Regions from separate parts of the Homo sapiens genome. Here region 1 is linked to region 2. A link means that fine-mapping ties the variant in region 2 to the expression of a gene that starts in the linked region. Tissue or cell type: whole blood. Region 2 holds a variant in brackets; the other region holds the start of a gene. All regions are shown on one strand. Distances are from middle to middle.

Region 1 (8,134 bases), 74 kb before region 2:
ATCATTATCTTAAACGGTATCATTTACTTAAAGGGTTGACAGTGCCTTGTACCACAATATATATTCAATAAATGCTTCCCATTATCCTTCATTTTAAATTATCCAGGTATTTTAGGCAAAGGCAATATCTAATTATCACTCTGTTCTTAGAGATACATGATTAGCAAATATGTAGATTAGAAAGATACACTCTCTCGGAGCCACACAGACACGCCCAAACATCCTTTGTCCAGACCCTTTGTGGGCATCCAAGGCCTACTCAACAGGGCCTTGCTGTGTCATGCTGCCACCATGGGGAAAGGGGGAGGACAAGGTGGTGGTAGAGGGGAGCAGAAGCTCTCTGGCATCTCACCATGCGTGCCTCAGTCAGAGCTTGGATTTTCCTATTAGCATTCCCTCACCAGTTCCACTGAATTGCAAATAATCATTCTTTTCCAGAATCTGTCCCCATACCTAGGAGTTTCCCCAAGGGTAAAGACCAATCTACTTTCTCTGTACACAAGTGGTGGGCTTTGTACACAAAGCCATTCAAGGCTGCTGATTAACTTTCCCTCACTATTTAATTAATACCTTGCCATTCCCTTATATTAGCCCACAGGTAAGCCTTAACAATCCATTTCTCTCTAGCCTACCTCTCCTTCAGAACAAAACCTAGGTGCTAAAAGAACTTTCCTAGCCAGGTGCAGTGGCTTACGCCTATAATCCCAGCACTTTGGGAGGCCGAGGCAGGCAGATCAGGAGGTGAGGAGTTCAAGACCAGCCCAACCAACATGGTGAAATCCTGTCTCTATTAAAAATACAAAATTAGCCAGGCGAGGTGGCGCATGCCTGTAATCCCAGTTATTTGGGAGGCTGAGGCAGGAAAATTGCTTGAACCTGGGAGGTGGAGGTTGCAGTGAGCCGAGATCTCGCCATTGCACTCCAGCCTGGGCAACAAGAGCGAAACTCCATCTCAAAAAAAGTAATAATAAATAAATAAATAAATAACTTTCCTATGCTGTAACAGGGATCTCTTTTCTCTGATCCCAGTGCTCGAGTATACTGATGATAATGAGAGCAAATGGATTGGAAATCCATTTGGATTTAAAGTAAAGTTCAGATTGGAAGAAGGTATTTTAACAGAATCAGATACTCTTCCATGCGTTAATGGATCTATCACTTTCTCTACTCATTCTACCCAAGCCCTGCCTGATATTTTAGGACTATTAGAGCTGCCTACAGCCTCCACCCTGCTACTTACTAGCCAAGGGTCAAGAAGCATTAGTTGTGGTCGGGCGTGGTGGCTTACGCCTGTAATCCCAGCACTTTGGGAGGCCGAGGCGGGTGGATCACGAGGTCAGGAGATCGAGACCATCCTGGCTAACACGGTGAAACCCCGTCTCTACTAAAAGTACAAATATTAAGCCGGGCGCGGTGGTGGGCGCCTGTAGTCCCAGCTACTTGGGAGGCTGAGGCAGGAGAATGGCGCGAACCTGGGAGGCGGAGCTTGCGGTGAGCTGAGATAGCGCCACTGCACTCCAGCCTGGGCGAAAGAGCAAGACTCCGTCTCAATAATAATAATAATAAATAAATAAAAATTAAAAAAAGAAGCATTAGTTGAAATGTTCCCAAAGGAGCAGAAAGAACATTCTATCACCTCCAAAAACAGAACCCCAAGTTTCAAAAGGCCTTTCTCCAACACACCCTATTGGGTCTCACCAGGCCAGAGACTCCTAAATAATGGCCTTAAATAGGTTCCAAAATGCTCCAGTATAATGTGAAATGACTGTACTAAGGCAGAAAAAGAAAGTGTTAATCTAGAACACAGTGATGTGTGAGAGTGTGGGGGCTTCAGGAATGGTGAGTGGGTAGGCTAGGATGTTTTTAATGTTGAAAGTGAATTCTGAGTTGTTCTTTTTCTTAGTTTAAGTTCCAAAATAAACCCTGGGAACTGAGCATTACTCAGCAGAGAAGCTGCTTAGAAGGAGGGTGATGCCGGGATTGCAGCAGGGTCGGGGAGCATGTTGGAAAGGTGAGGTCATCATCCTATGATACTCAACTCTGATAATCTCCATAGTACTTTGCAGAGACGTGTGCAGAAAGAGAGCTACAAAAAATGGTTGTATCCATTAACCAACCACCCACTGCTTAAATCTGGGACTATAGAGATTCTAAGAAGCATACCTAGGAGTCAATACTGTTATGGACTTGTGGCTACAGGGATTCTTACTGTTACCAGTTATTTTCACAGCTAGCTGGGTTCTTTTCTCTATCCTACCTGACAAGTCTTCTCCAGAATGAGCTTAGTATAATGCAGGCCACATTATAGGCTCTTTAAAAAATAGAATCATGGGGCCAGGCGCGGTGGCACACGCCTGTAATCTCAGCACTTTGGGAGGCCGAGGCAGGTGGATCACAAGGTCAGGAATTCGAGACCAGCCTGGCCAAGATAGTGAAACCCCGTCTTTACTAAAAATACAAAAATTAGCCAGGTGTGGTGGCAGGCGCCTATAATCCCAGCTACTCGGGAGGCTGAGGCAGGAGAATCGCTTGAACTGGGGAGGTGGAGGTTGCAGTGAGCCAAGATTGCACCACTGCACTCCAGCCTGGGCAACAGAGCGAGACTCCATCTTAAAAAAAAAAAAAAAATAGAATCATGGGGGGAAAAAATCATAGAATTTTAAAACTAGAAGACATCTTAGAAATTAATGACTTGGGAAGACTTCCAGCCAGTTTGTATAGAATCCAGATCTCATAATTCCCAATCTGATCCCTTTTTGTGTTGTACATGGATAGTTGCCAACAGCTTTATATAACCCTATACCAGTATTCCCAAAACTTAAAAGAATTTTTAGTTGCTGAAGAATAGATTTTCCGTGGTTTAGGTGATTGTTCCTGTAATTGTGATCTGAATGGGGAAAAGCAAAGGGCAGTAGAGCAAGCTAGAATCTGAGAAAAAAAAAAAAGCTCTTCGACAAACTGACTCCTTTTCTTACAACCAGAGTATGTATAAAAAACTGCTCAAACAGTCCCTGAGTGTTTGGTAGAGCTATCTTGCAATTTAAAAAGCTAAAGCAAATTTTATGAAATATTAACTCAAAAGGCCTAAAATCTCTATGTCATTGACCCAGAGACATGTACACAGGGTACCAAATACATTCAAGAAAGACATGCATGCAAACATACGTGGCATTAAAATCAAGTCAAGAACATAAAGTAATACTACACAGAAAATTGAAGTTAAAATGCTATTCACTAATGTAAGTAGTAATGACATTTTTGATTTAATATAGTATGGATTTAATTATCAAATACTCCAAATTTCGCAAAAGATCCTTTTTTGGCTAGCTTCCCCTTCCCCTCCACAAATGCTCTCCAGCCCTACTTCATCTATCTTTACATCTTTCATTATCTTAAATGGTATCATTTACTTAAAGGGTTTTGACAGTGCCTTGTACCACAATATATGTTCAATAAATGCTTCCCACTATCCTTCACTTTAAATTATCCGGGTATTTTAGGCAAAGGCAATATCTAATTATCACTCTGTTCTTAGAGATACATGATTAGCAAATGTATAGATTAGAAAGATACACTCTCGGAGCCACACAGACACGCCCAAATATCCTTTGTCCAGACCCTTTGTGGGCATCCAAGGCCTACTCAACAGGGCCTTGCTGTGTCATGCTGCCACCATGGGGAAGGGGGAAGGACAAGGTGGTGGTGGTGGTAGAGGGGAGCAGAACCTCTCTGACATCTCATAATGTGTGCCTCAGTCAGAGCTTGGATTTTCCTACTAGCATTCCTCCACCAATTCCACTGAGCTGCAAATCATTCTTTTCCAGAATCTGTCCCCATACCTAGCTCCTGTGGGCTATACTGATTTCACTATGGAATCAGGCAGTTCTCCAACACAGAGGCCCCCACCTTTCCTACCCTAGGCTGCCTCTTTCTTTGGAGCAAAGATTCGAGGTGGAATGAAAGAGATTATCCAAAGAAAGGTCAGGATTACACCCAACATTATCCCATATAACCCCCTCCCAAACTCCCTCCTACAGAGAAACATAGAACACTACAGAAAAAAATTGCAAGTATAGGGAAGTAGAGGACAGAGAGATACAGTAGGACTAAAAATTAAACAGCTGGTAAAACAAATTATGGTTTGAAAAGGAAGATAAGTAGACTGAAGATATTAAATACACAGGACAATAAATTACAGAAAAGGATACTTGAAATGAGGTAGGTGCTGAGAAATAACTACAAGTAAATTGTTAGAGATTAATGGTCTGTATAAGGTAACAAGGCATGGATGCTGTGAAGAAATAACTACCCATTGTTCATAGCGCCCCCTTCTCTCCTCTTCAGCTGTCCCCCACCTCATGTGGGGTCTTTCAATCTAACCATAAGCAGCCGCTCTTCTATCTTTGCAGCCCCCTGCCCCCTCCCTCAGTTTGGTTTACCTGTTATCAATCAATTACTGGCGTGTTCCAAAGATGGAGGGAGTGCCTCGGGAGCTCCGGGGTCTGCGCCGGGCTGGAGAAATACAAAGCTGTTGGGGCTTTGACGGCTTTGTCTTCTCACTCCTTTTCCCTCTTCAGTGACTGAGTCTGTCAGTTCACTCTCCCCCTGCAATGCAGCCCCTCCTAAGAAGGGCGGAAGGATTCCCCGCCCCCTCCTGCCTGACTCGGCTAATTCAAATGATAGGTTCCAGAACACTTGAGGGAAGGAGAGACGATGAAAGCATCTCCCTAGGCTCATTGGTCTGCGCTATTATTCCCGATCTCTTCCAGCACCCCCGTGCTGACTGGGGGCCCAATGAATGAGCAGTTAATTGCCCTCTAATTTTAGGTCCTCTAATTTATGGATTTGAAATCTTAACTCTAGACTACAATGGAAAGGAGGAGTATTCCTTTCTTCCACAATTTAAGGACTTTAGGTTACAAAGTATTTTTAAGAATCAGAGTATTTTTCCACCCCTTCTCCCAATCCCTGCTCCTCCAGACTCGCCTCTCTACCCTCACAATGGGTAAATAAACCTAGTCCTATTCCATTTTGGGTAGAGCACAATAAATTTGGGGTGGGGGGCGTGCTTCTGCGAATCTCTGAACTTGGTTAGGTCTGGGGGTTTGGGGGGCTCCGCTTCGTTTTGCCCCGAAATGCCTGGCGAGTAAAGGGAACGTGAGATTCCGGGGGCCCCAGCTTGGGTGCCAGGGCCTCATCTAGGTGTCCGCATTCTCCAGTTCTCCCCGCAGGGGCGGCGGCCTTGAGGGGCTGCAGAGGCACCCTCCCACGTCCCGCGCAGTGCAGTGCCTCCGCAGTCCAGAGGGGAGCAGTGCGCCGGGCTCCGAGCCGGACGGGTTTCGTAATCGCGTCGCCGCCGCTTCCGCCCTCAGCCGGCCCCACCTCTGCCGGCTCGTACTCGGCTCCCCCACCTCGCCGCAGAGCTAGCCCGGGAAGCCCACACTGGCGGCCACGGAGCAGAGTCCCTCACCCCCACCAGCTGTAGCTGAACGTCTGGATGGTGGAGAAGAGCAGGTGAGGCCGTGCAGTTGGTCCCCTGGCCCGCCTGCCGCGCCGGCCGGGCCAGGCGGAGACACACCGGATGCGGGGTGTGGGGGAGGCGGGTGTCCTGGGCTGCAGAGATGCTGGGGTGGTGGGAAAGGGGTGCGCGCCCGGGGTGGCCGTAGTCATCCACGCTCCTGGGGTGCGCAGGCTGAGGCCGCTGAAGAGTAGAAGGAAAAGAAGGAACTGGAATGTTGGGGGAGGTGGGAGGGAGAGGGTCCGAAAGATTCCCAGAGAGGTCCCAGTCCGGTTAAGGGTTGAGAACAGCAGAGAACTTCTAGGTAGAGTTGTGTAGTGGGGGGAGACAGATACGGAATCTGTGTGATTGAATATATTTGGGGAGGGGAGGCTTAGGGCCTAGCCCTCTTTCCTCTTAAGCCCCCAGAAGACCTTTCCTGGGGAAGGGAAGGTTGGTGTTGGGCCTGTCACTTGGCTGAAATATGGAGTCCACACCGCTTCTCCAGAGTCCCTCAGCAGCCCTCCATGTCTCGGGGTCTCCACACAGGGACCAGCTGCTGCCCCGGGCTTCTAGCCAGAATTGCCCATGCCATTCTCTCGATTCTTTCTTTCTCTCCAGCTGCTTCATGTGAGGGCTTGTCAGGCCGCGGGTTGGAGGCCTTAGGGCCAGAGGCGGTGGGACCGGGAGAACCGGTTTGGGGCCCGAACAGGACCAGAGAACTAGCCTGTACATCCTTCCTCCCTGGCACCTCTTTCCCATCCCTTCTGCTCACCTCCCAACAGCTCTGAGACCCTCAAGTCCTAGTATGATCTTGGTGGGGGCGGGGGGTGGCTTTCCCGGTTCCATATTTCACTCTTGCCATTTGGAACTCAGAGAGGTCGAGTTCTGAGCACCACTTGGCTCTCAGGACGTGGCCTTATGAGGTCTAATCCTCATCCCTCCTGTTGTTTTCTCAGCCCCTTCCCTATTCACTGTGGGGTTGGATTCGGGTGGCTCTTCCGCCTGGGCTGACCAGCTCAGGACTTCATTTTTCCTCAACCCACTCTCTTCTGGCTGCTTTAAAGAAGAGTGGCCGCCAGTGGCTCTTACTTCCTTTTCTGGCTTTGTTCCCATCCCCCACTGCCCTGCGCTACCATCACATTCACCCTGACCTGTCTTCTTCACACTCTGACCCCACCCTCAAGTTTCAGAGACCCTAATGTCCTAGGGAATGGAATTTCCTGGTCACTTCTCGTCATCATTGGTCATTTCATGCCAAGTCCCACACACACGCTTTCCCTCCACCCAGCTCTGGTCAGGTCCCTGGAAAAGAAACAGAAATGGCCTTGTTCTCTCCACTGCCCCTTTCCCTCTCTCCTTCTCCTCCCCCTCTCTTCTCTTCCCTCCCAGCACTATCCACCTCTGTCCCTCAGCTTTGAGCAGAGTGGGGGATGTTGAGGGAGAGTCCAGTCACAGTACAGCCTGCCTGCTGGTGTTGGGGGTTTCCTCTAATTCTTCATTTTTCCCCAACCCTTACCACCTGCCACCACCACCATCAGGACAAACCCTATGACTGACTCACTGACGTCCCACTGACCACAGCTCCCCTCTCTGGACAGCGTGTTTTAGCTTCCGCTCCTTCTGGTTACTCCTCCCTTCCAGTGGTGAGAAGAGAAGAGAAAGCCCAGCCTCCTGGGTTCTCCCCTCCCCTAGAAGCTACATTTGAGTGTTTGTGTGATCTCATCTCAAGGCTGTTAAAAAAAAAAAAAACCTCTGTGTGTGTGTGTGTGTGTGTGTGTGTGTGTGTGTGTGTGTGTTTTGTATTTGAGACAGGGTCTTGTCCTGTCACCCAGGCTGGAGTGCAGGGGTGCAAACATGGCTCACTGTAGCCGCAACTCTTGGGCTCAAGTGATCCTCCTGCCTCAGCCTCCCCAGTAGCTGGGATGACAGGCACATGCTACCACACCCTGCTATCTCGTTTTTTTGTGTGTGTTTTTTTTGAGGCGGAGTTTCGCTCTTGTTGCCCAGGCTGGAGTGCAGTGGCGATCTCGGCTCACTGCAATCTCCGGTTCAAGCGATTCTCCTGCCTCAGCCTCCCAAGTAGCTGGGATTACAGGCATCCGCCACCACGCCCAGCTAATCTTTTGTATTTTTAGCAGAGATGGGGTTTCACCATGTTGGCCAGGCTGGTCTGGAACTCCTGACCTCAGGTGATCCGCCCACCTTGGCCTCCCAAAGTGCTGGGATTACAGGCGTGAGCCACCACGCCCGGCCTATCTCTTGTTTTTAAATCAGTCTAGGGTGCCAAAGCATCAGGGTTCCCGGCCTGCAAGAAAGGGAGATTCCTGTTCATGTTAAAGTGTCATATTTATGAAACTGCCCTTTTTGGAATCTTTGAGGTTGTCTGTACTATAGGACTGGGGAAATGCAAGTGAGTCTAAGAAGAAACCCAGATGTGTCCTACCCTGGCTGGCAGTAGTGAGAAGGGAGGAAGTTCTTCCTTGGACACTAGTACTATTGGAAAGTTCCTTATGTCTGGTTCACTGATGAAGCTTGAGGATAGAATTGGTGAGGAGGGAGGGGAGAACAGGTCACAGCTGGAGGGGAGCCTGGGCCCTATAGGGTGTGAGGCAGAGCAGAGTGGCAGATAGGACA
Region 2 (8,134 bases):
AATTTCTGTATTTTCAGTAGAGACAGGGTTTTACCTTGTTAGCCAGGATGGTCTCGATCTCCTGACCTCGTGATCCGCCCGCCTTGGCCTCCCAAAGTGCTGAGATTACAGGCATGAGCCACCGCGCCTGGCCTGTTTATTTATTTTTTTTGAGGCAGGTCTCACTTTGTCACCCAGACTGGAGCGCAGTGGCGTCACCTCGGCTGACCGCAACCTCTGCTTCCCAGGCTCGAGATTCTCCTGCTTCAGCCTCCCAAGTAGCTGAGATTACAGGCGCTCACCACTACCCCCTGGCTAATTTTTGTATTTTTAGTAGAGATGGGGTTTCACCATGTTGGCCAGGCTGGTCTTGAACTCCTGGCCTCAAATAATCCACCCGCCTCAGCCTACCAAAGTCCTGGGATTACAGGCATGCGCCACAGCGCCCAGCCCGAGTTTTTCCTTTTTAGAAACAATTCAGAATTAGCCAGATATGGTGGCCTACGCCTGTAATCCCAGCTACTTAAGACACAGAGGCCAGAGAATCACTTGAACCCAGAAGGTGAAGGCTGCAGTGAGCTGAGATCACGCCACTGCACTCCAGCCTAGGCAACAGAGCCAGACTCTATCTCAAAAAAAAAATTTTTTTTTTCAGAAAAATGGGCCTATGTTATTTTCTGACTACCACTTCTTTTTTTCTTTTTTTGAGACAGGGTCTTGCTCTGTTACCCAGGCTGAAGTGCAGTGGAGTAATCACAGCTCACTGTAACTTCTAATTCATGGGCTCAAGCAATCCTCCCACCACATCCTCCTGAGTAGTTGGGACTAGAGGCAGGTGCCACCATGCCTGGCAAATTTTCTTCTTATTTTTGTAGAGACGAGTTCTTGCTATGTCGCCTAAGTTGGTCTTGAACTCCTGACCTCAAGCGATCCTCCCACCTTAGCTTCCCAAAGTGCTAGGATTACAGGTGTGAGCCACCATGCTTGGCCCCTGACTACTACTTCTAAGATAAATCTTTTATCTACACTCAAGAGTGTGGGTCTTGTAATCCAAATACACTACAAAATCATCTACTGCTGGGATAGTTTGTATTTATGACAGGAATTTGGACAGATAAGTACAACTCTTCAAATGAATCTTAGTGTTGACTCATTATAATCATACAGGCTTTATTGGGCAAGTATAATAATCTACTGTCAAGATAGAAATCTCTAGATGACAGAACAATTGCTTATATTTACTAACTTTTGGGCAATCATCAACATGGCATGATGGCTTCTCAACCAGTCTACAGAAAGCTATTCCATCTGCCAAAATGATAACTACTTTTTTAGTCTGACTGTGTCACCCAGGCTGGAGTGCAGTGGCGTGATCTTGGTTCACTACAACCTCCGCCTCCCAGGTTCAAGCAATTCTCCTGCCTCAGACTCCCAAGTAGCTGGAATTACAGGTGCCTGCCACCATGCCTGGCTAATTTTTGTATTTTTAGTAGAGACAGGGTTTCACCACGTTGGCCAGGCTGGTCTCGAACTCCTGACCTCAAGTGATCCATCCACCTTGGCCTCCCAAAGTGCTGGGATTATAGGCGTGAGCCACTGCGCCCTTCCTGAACTTTTTATTTATAGATTTTGGGGGACAGTTCTACTAATAGGAGACCTAATTCAATCAACAGAATAACTGGATTCTATTGGTGGAAGCACTCAAGCCACAGTCAGCAGTTTAAGTACGGATAATATGGGCTGGGCGCAGTGGCTCACGCCTGTAATCCTAGCACTTCGGGAGGCCGAGACAGGTTGATGACCTGAGGTCAGGAGTTTGAGACCAGCCTGACCAACATGGTGAAACCGCATCTGCTAAAAATACAAAAAATTAGGATAATGTGGTGGCGGGCGCCTGTAATCCCAGCTATTTGGGAGGCTGAGGCAGGAAAATCGCTTGAATCCAGGAGGCGGAGGTTGCCATGAGCCGAGATTGTGCCACTGCACTCCAGCCTCCAGCCTGGGCAACAAGAGTGAAACTCCATCTCAAAAAAAAAAAAAAAAGTATGGATAATGTGGAACAAAATCTGACCAGCGTGGAGAAAGGGGGCCTTGGGTGCTAAGAGCACTTATCGTATAGCTGACAAGGATGGTCAATATCTTACATCGTGAAGTGTTGTGTAGGGAGACTGTATAACTTACTAGCTACGTGACCTCAAGCAAGGTACTTAACTTCTCTGGGCTTCAGTTTTTTCATCTATAAGATACGGATGGATATGGTTGTGAGGATTAATTGAAATATGTGTGCCCTGCTCAGGATAGGCTGTGGCACACAATCAGCACCTGCAAAATGCCAGCCCTTGTCATTATTCTTGCTAGTGTTATCACCATCACTCTGGCAACAACTAAGCCTGCACAAGGCACTGTCTTACAGAGCAGATTCATATCTCTATTTGGCCACCTAGACATTAACAAGGCCAAAATGTTAGTTTCAGGGCCCCTGGGAGCCAACTAAGTTAGTTCTCACCACAGCTCATTCCTCCACCCCTGTGTAAGCCCTGGTGTGTAAGCCCTGGGAAGGAGAGCGGCTTGAGGTTTAGACGGTGTATATAGGATGGTTACATAAGCAGCAAGCTGAGACTTCCTCTCTCCTCCCCAGTTTCTGTTCTGGGGAGGGAAAGGAGTGCCCCTCTCACCTGGAGGGCTTGATGAAGTTTGTCAGCAAAGTACAGCGGTGTGTTCTTGATCACCGAAGCTGGAAACAAAGATGGAAGGATGGAGGTTCACAACTAGGACCACAATCTCCCATCCCAAGAGAGACTTACTTCACAAATCCTGAGCAGGCCCCTACCTAGGCCGAGCAGAGCCACCTGAGCATCTCCATGGAAACGGTTCTGGACAGCCTCCTCCAGCTCTTGCCCAGTGCTCCGCTGGTACTGATCAAACACTTGTGTGTGTAGGAGGCAGTTAGAAAGATGGATGGGGGATTAATTATCTCTGGAAAGGATGGGCCCTCCCCACCTTCCTCAGCCCAAACTGATCATTAGAGCAAGCTAGGGGGACAAGAAGGCTTGTGTGTACCTCGGATGAGGTGTTCAGGATTTCGCTGGGTGAAGACTGGGACCCATGTTTCCTCTCTGCTAGGTCCTTCTGCCCGCTGCAGTGCCTAGGAGGGAGGAATGAGTCAGGGAGGAGTCAATCAGGATCATTGGTTGGGGCCTAGGGAGCCATGGGTATGACGTTCCAGAATCTATCATCATCATGATGGAAATGGGATTGAGGGTGGAAAAGGATTTTTTTTTTTTTTTTTGAGAAGGACTCTCATTCTGTCACCCAGGCTGGAGTGCAATGGTGTGATCCCAGCTCACCACAACCTCTGCCTCCCAGGTTCAAGTGATTCTCCAGGCTCAGCCTCCTGAGTAGCTGGGATTACAGGCACTCACCATCATGCCTGGCTAATTTTTGTATTTTTAGTAGAGACGGGGTTTCACCATGTTGGCTAGGCTGGTTTCGAACTCCTGACCTCAAGTGATCCACCTGTCTCGGCCTCCCAAATTGTTGGGATTATAGGTGTGAGCCACCACGACCAGCCAGAAAGTTTATTTTAACCCGTAAACTAGGTTTGTGTGTGTGCGTGTGTGTGTGTGTGTGTGTGTGAGAGAGAGAGAGAGAGAGAGCGAGAGAGATGGGGTCTCTCTCTGTCACCCAGGCTGGAGTGCAGTGGCATGACCAGGGCTTACCTCAGCCTCAACTTCCCAGGCTCAAGCGATCCTCCCACCTCAGCCTCCTAGCTAGCTGGAACTACAGGTGCAGCTAATTTTTAAAAATATTTTGTGGAGATAGAGTCTCACTATGTTGCCTAGGCTGGTCTTGGACTCCTGGGCTCAAGTGATCCTCTTGTTTCAGCCTCCCAAAGTGCTGGGATTACAGGTATAAGCCACCATGCCTGGCCTACTAGTTGTTTTTATTTATGTTTTTTTATCTTATGTTTTTTATTTTTTAAGAAAGAAATAGGGCTAAGAGAGGGCTCTGCCCTTACAGCCTCACAGCTCTATTCACTGATTTGGAAAAATCCTGGTACCCGAGGATTAAATAATCCCCAAAAGGTCTGAGGAGGCTTTCTGCCCCCAAACGCTCATGAGAGGAGAATATGTCAGTTGATGAGCTCAGGAGTCAGAGGCTAGATGAGTGAAAAGGCTTCAGCTATGACGCTACCTGACACCTCCTGCCCCTACCACATAACTGAGAACTCCCTCTCCAAGGCAGGGATGGGTTTGCGGGAAAAATGGGCACGTAGGTCACCGGCTCTAAGATATGGTGGAGGAAGGCATCTTATGTGCATGGCGGCTGTGCACACTCCTAAACCCCCTGCTCACCTGGACATCTTGTTCTGCCAGATTATAGTCAATGATTCCAGAGTAGCTGTCACGGCCCCCCTAGGAGGAGAAACTGTTCTTAGAGGGCTCTTTGAAGGGCACCTTTTTATCTTCAGACCAACAAGCGAAGGCTGGTCTCCCCTAAAGCCCTCTCTTGTCCATTACAGGACAGCAATGCTCCCTGCTCCAGCGTGTCTCCTTGCCTGGTGAACGTGACTCCCTTCCTTGCAGGTCAGTCCTCCTCACCTTGGCCAGGGCCAACAGCAGGTCCTGCAAGATGCCACTGGTCTCAGATGTGATGTCATCCACAGCCTCCACCTGGAAATCTGGGGTGGGGTGAGGAGCTCTCTGAATCCTCCTGAGTTTTCCTAGTGTAGATATCCCCAGGACCTGCCAAATGCCTGACCCGCTATACCCTGCCAGCCCTGCTAGCCCCTGCTTGGAGTAGCTTGATGGCTGCTAATTCCCAGGATGTAAGG[C/T]ACAAGTACCATCACGGCCACTCTAAAAACATCTCTAAGTTGTGAGGTGTGCAGTGGCTTCATCACCAAGCACCAACCTGCTGGGCAGGAGGCAACCATTATTAGAGTTGGGGCCAGGCAGTGAAGAAGAGCTAGGGAAACCCGTATTATAACACAAGATGGTTAGGACCTGGCACCCTCATTGGAGGTAAGGAAAAATGATATGAGAGGTGGGATATGAGGAAGGAAAAGAGCAGGAAAGGGAGAAAAAGAAAGAGAAAAGGGAAACAGATGCAAGAAGGAAGGAAGGTAGGAGAGGGATTAAGAACATAGGCCACGGCCAGGGCGGTGGCTCATGCTTGTAATCCCAGCACTTTCAGAGGCTGAGGCAGGAGATGGCTTGAGCCCAGAAGTTCGAGACCAGCCTGGACAACACAGCGAAACCCCATCTCTACAAAAAATACAAAATTTAGCTGGGCATGGTGGTGGCACACCTGTAGTCCCAGCTACTTAGGAGGCTGAGGTGGGAGGACTGATTGAGCCCAGAAGGGTCAAGGCTGCAGTGAGCCATGATGACATCACTGCACAGCCTAGGCTACAGGGCAAGACCTTGTCTCAAAAGAAGAACATAGGCCAAGATTAGACATCAAAGGAAAATTGGGGAAAGCAAGAAAAAGAGGTAGGGGTGGGGGGAAGGGGTGGTAAGATGAGGATGGGAAAAAGCCACAAATTAGTGGGTGAGACACTTGTAGCCAAGCAAGGCCAGCCATCAGGGACATGAAAGGTGACACCCATGACTCAGAGGGCAGATTCCCACCTTTTCCTCAGGCTGCAGCATGGCTGGGTTCAGCTTGGAATGTGGTGTGATGGCAGGGATGGCAAGGGGCTGGGAAGGTGACATGAGTACCTTTGGGACTGTCACTTTGGAATCTGCCTTGGAGCTCCAGATTAAGATGGTTAATCATTGCTTCTCTCTCTTTATTTGTGTGTGTGTGTGTGTGTGTGTGTGTGTGAGAGAGAGAGAGAGAGAGAGAGACATGCTCTCACTCCTGTCACCCAGGCTGGTGTGCAGTGGCAGTGGCACGATCTCAGCTCACTGCAGCCTCAACTTCCCAAGCTGGGGTGATCCTCCCACCTCAAACTCCTGAGTAGCTGGGACCACAGGCGCACACCACCATGACCAGCTGGTTTTTTTGAATTTTTAGCACAGATGAGGTTTTCCTTTATTGCCTGTGACTGGTCTTGAACTCCTGGGCTCAAGTGACCTGCCCACCTCAGCCTCCCAAAGTGTTGGGGTGACAGGCATGAGTCACCGTACCTGGCCTGCTTCTCTTTTTTTAATGATCACATCTGGGTCTCTCCCCTGAGAGACTGAGGCACTGGTGGGGGCAAGAGGAAAGACCCCAAGGGAATAGAACTTAGGCAGCCAGGTTGCCAGATAGCTCACCTATGGGGAGTACAGGAGAGGAGTGGCCTGTCCTACAGCCCCTTCTCCAGCATCTGGGACCCCTCCCTCTATATTCTTACTGTGTTTGTAGACTGCCAGGCACTCCTGCAGCTGGGGTGGGGTTCGAGTGGCAAGAATTTCAATGGCCACGTCCACAGCAGAATCTGAGGCCTACAAGAAATTGGGAGTCTACTCTCAGACTGGCCGTGTCATTAGGATGGCAGACAGAGGGGCAGACGCTGGCTGCTTCTCCTTCTAAGAAACAATATGGGACGACGAGAGGGGGACTCTCGTCTTGCAAAAGCAAGGCTGACAGCCTTCTCCCTTCCCCAGACACCCCAGCAAGTCTCCCCTCCTGCTACCTTCAGAGCTGTCCTCAATTCCTGGGCGTCAAACTGGGCTGTGGGCTGCAGCAGAGCCATCACAATCCTCTCCAGGTTGCCGGAAAGTGCTGCCTGTAGAGACTTCATCAGGTCCTACAATAAATGGTCCTCACAGCAGAGGGACGGGGGTGAGGGGAAGGGCCCCAGAAGTGTGGGGAGGTTTGGGAAGATTTGGCTGGTTTTCATCTCAGGCCCTGTTTAGCCAGGAAGCAGGGGCTGGCCTCAGCGGCTGTTGCTGTCTCTCGAGTCCTCCAGGGGGTTTCTCACCCCAGTCCACTGCTGTGGGAGGTCAGCATGGCCTCACCTGTTGGGTGCGCTCCTGGAAGTTTCGTGAGATGAGCTGCCTTTGCTCTCTGCTCCGGTTGGTCAGCACGTCCACAATGGCACTGCGGTCCACGCCTGAACCGAGATGAGGGCTGTGCTGTGAGCAGGGTCTTTACATAGTGGGATGTTCCTACTCCTTGGAGGAGGGAAGGCGCTCCAGGAGAGGGCTGGGAAGGAAAGGAGCAGGGGCTATATCACCCCCACTTCCATTTTATCTCAAAAGAAGTTGCAAATAAAATGTCAAAACAGCATGCAAATCTGACCCAGACCAAGGCAAAGGTGGCCTGGTGTGGTGGTTAAAAAAAAATACGACTTGGGGGGATCGGCTGACCTAGATGAGAATACCACCTCCGTCATGAGCTGAGTGACCTTGGGCAAGCCTCTTAATCTCCCTGAGCCCCAGTTTCCTCATCTGGAAAATGGAAATAATAAGCCTTGCCTCACAGGGGTGTTGTGAGAATGGGTTTGACACACCTACTGTGGCGCCTGACATACAAGAATGAAGGCATTCCACAAACATTTCTCCAACATCACTAGTTCCTCCTTCCTGGCTCCTCCTTGGTCTACAGATTGGCTCTAAAAGGCAGTCTCAAGTGCCGGGGGAAAGGGGCTCACCTTGGCCAGTAATGGCCCTCAGTAGCCTCTGCGCATCCTTGTCCACGCTGAAGTTCAAGAAGGTCCTGAGGGTGCCCAGGGTCCCCCACGCTGCAGTCTGTGGGAGCACAGGGTAGTTGGCAAGGGCCAGGGCCAGGCTGCCTACACCTCCTCAGCATAACCTCAGGGCCTGTCCTCCACTTTCCTGCCTCCCATCCTCTCACAGCCCGAGCTGAGATACTAAAAGTGATCTCTAAAATCCCAACAGCCCCTACCTTGCTGGCCAGGCCCAGGTGGCTGAGGATCTCCTGGGTGAGGGACGGTGCCATCTTCCCGCCAGTCACAGACATGGTGCTACTGGTTGCCCTGGGGAAGGAAACAGGAGCCCACAGAGCTGAATTTCCTGGCCCTTCAGGGACTCCTTATGACCCCCCCGAGACCCTGGACCCTGGGTTCCAGTCACCTGTTCCTTTCCTTGCTGCAGAAAAAAAGATCAACCTGCTTAGGCTTGGAGCCAGAAATGGAGCTGAAATGGTGAGGTAAGAGGGGAGCCCCCACCTTCCCCACCTCTCCCCACTCCTTTAGGAAGTGGGG

Evidence for each region. PIP is the estimated chance that this variant, and not a neighbour inherited with it, causes the effect.
Region 1: it holds the start of MLLT11, and the variant in region 2 is fine-mapped to the expression of MLLT11 in whole blood (TOPMed, PIP 0.91).

The regions. Positions count from the first base shown.
Region 1 is chr1:151,056,859-151,064,992 of GRCh38, reverse strand. It overlaps MLLT11 (MLLT11 transcription factor 7 cofactor), which reads right to left and starts at 4,596. Exons shown (of 2, transcript NM_006818.4): 1 at 4,440-4,596. It overlaps CDC42SE1 (CDC42 small effector 1), which reads left to right and starts at 5,371. Exons shown (of 5, transcript NM_020239.4): 1 at 5,371-5,514. RefSeq lists an enhancer at 4,459-5,050 and silencers at 6,914-6,963, 6,974-7,033.
Region 2 is chr1:150,982,862-150,990,995 of GRCh38, reverse strand. ANXA9 (annexin A9) reads right to left here. Exons shown (of 14, transcript NM_003568.3): 3 at 7,816-7,906; 4 at 7,562-7,658; 5 at 6,927-7,021; 6 at 6,602-6,715; 7 at 6,320-6,410; 8 at 4,581-4,660; 9 at 4,335-4,394; 10 at 3,040-3,124; 11 at 2,810-2,905; 12 at 2,655-2,713. The coding sequence starts at 7,890. Among named protein-coding and RNA genes, the nearest start is that of ANXA9, 4.6 kb to the right of the region's middle. RefSeq lists an enhancer at 7,319-8,134. The variant C/T (reference allele first, on the strand shown) is at 4,814.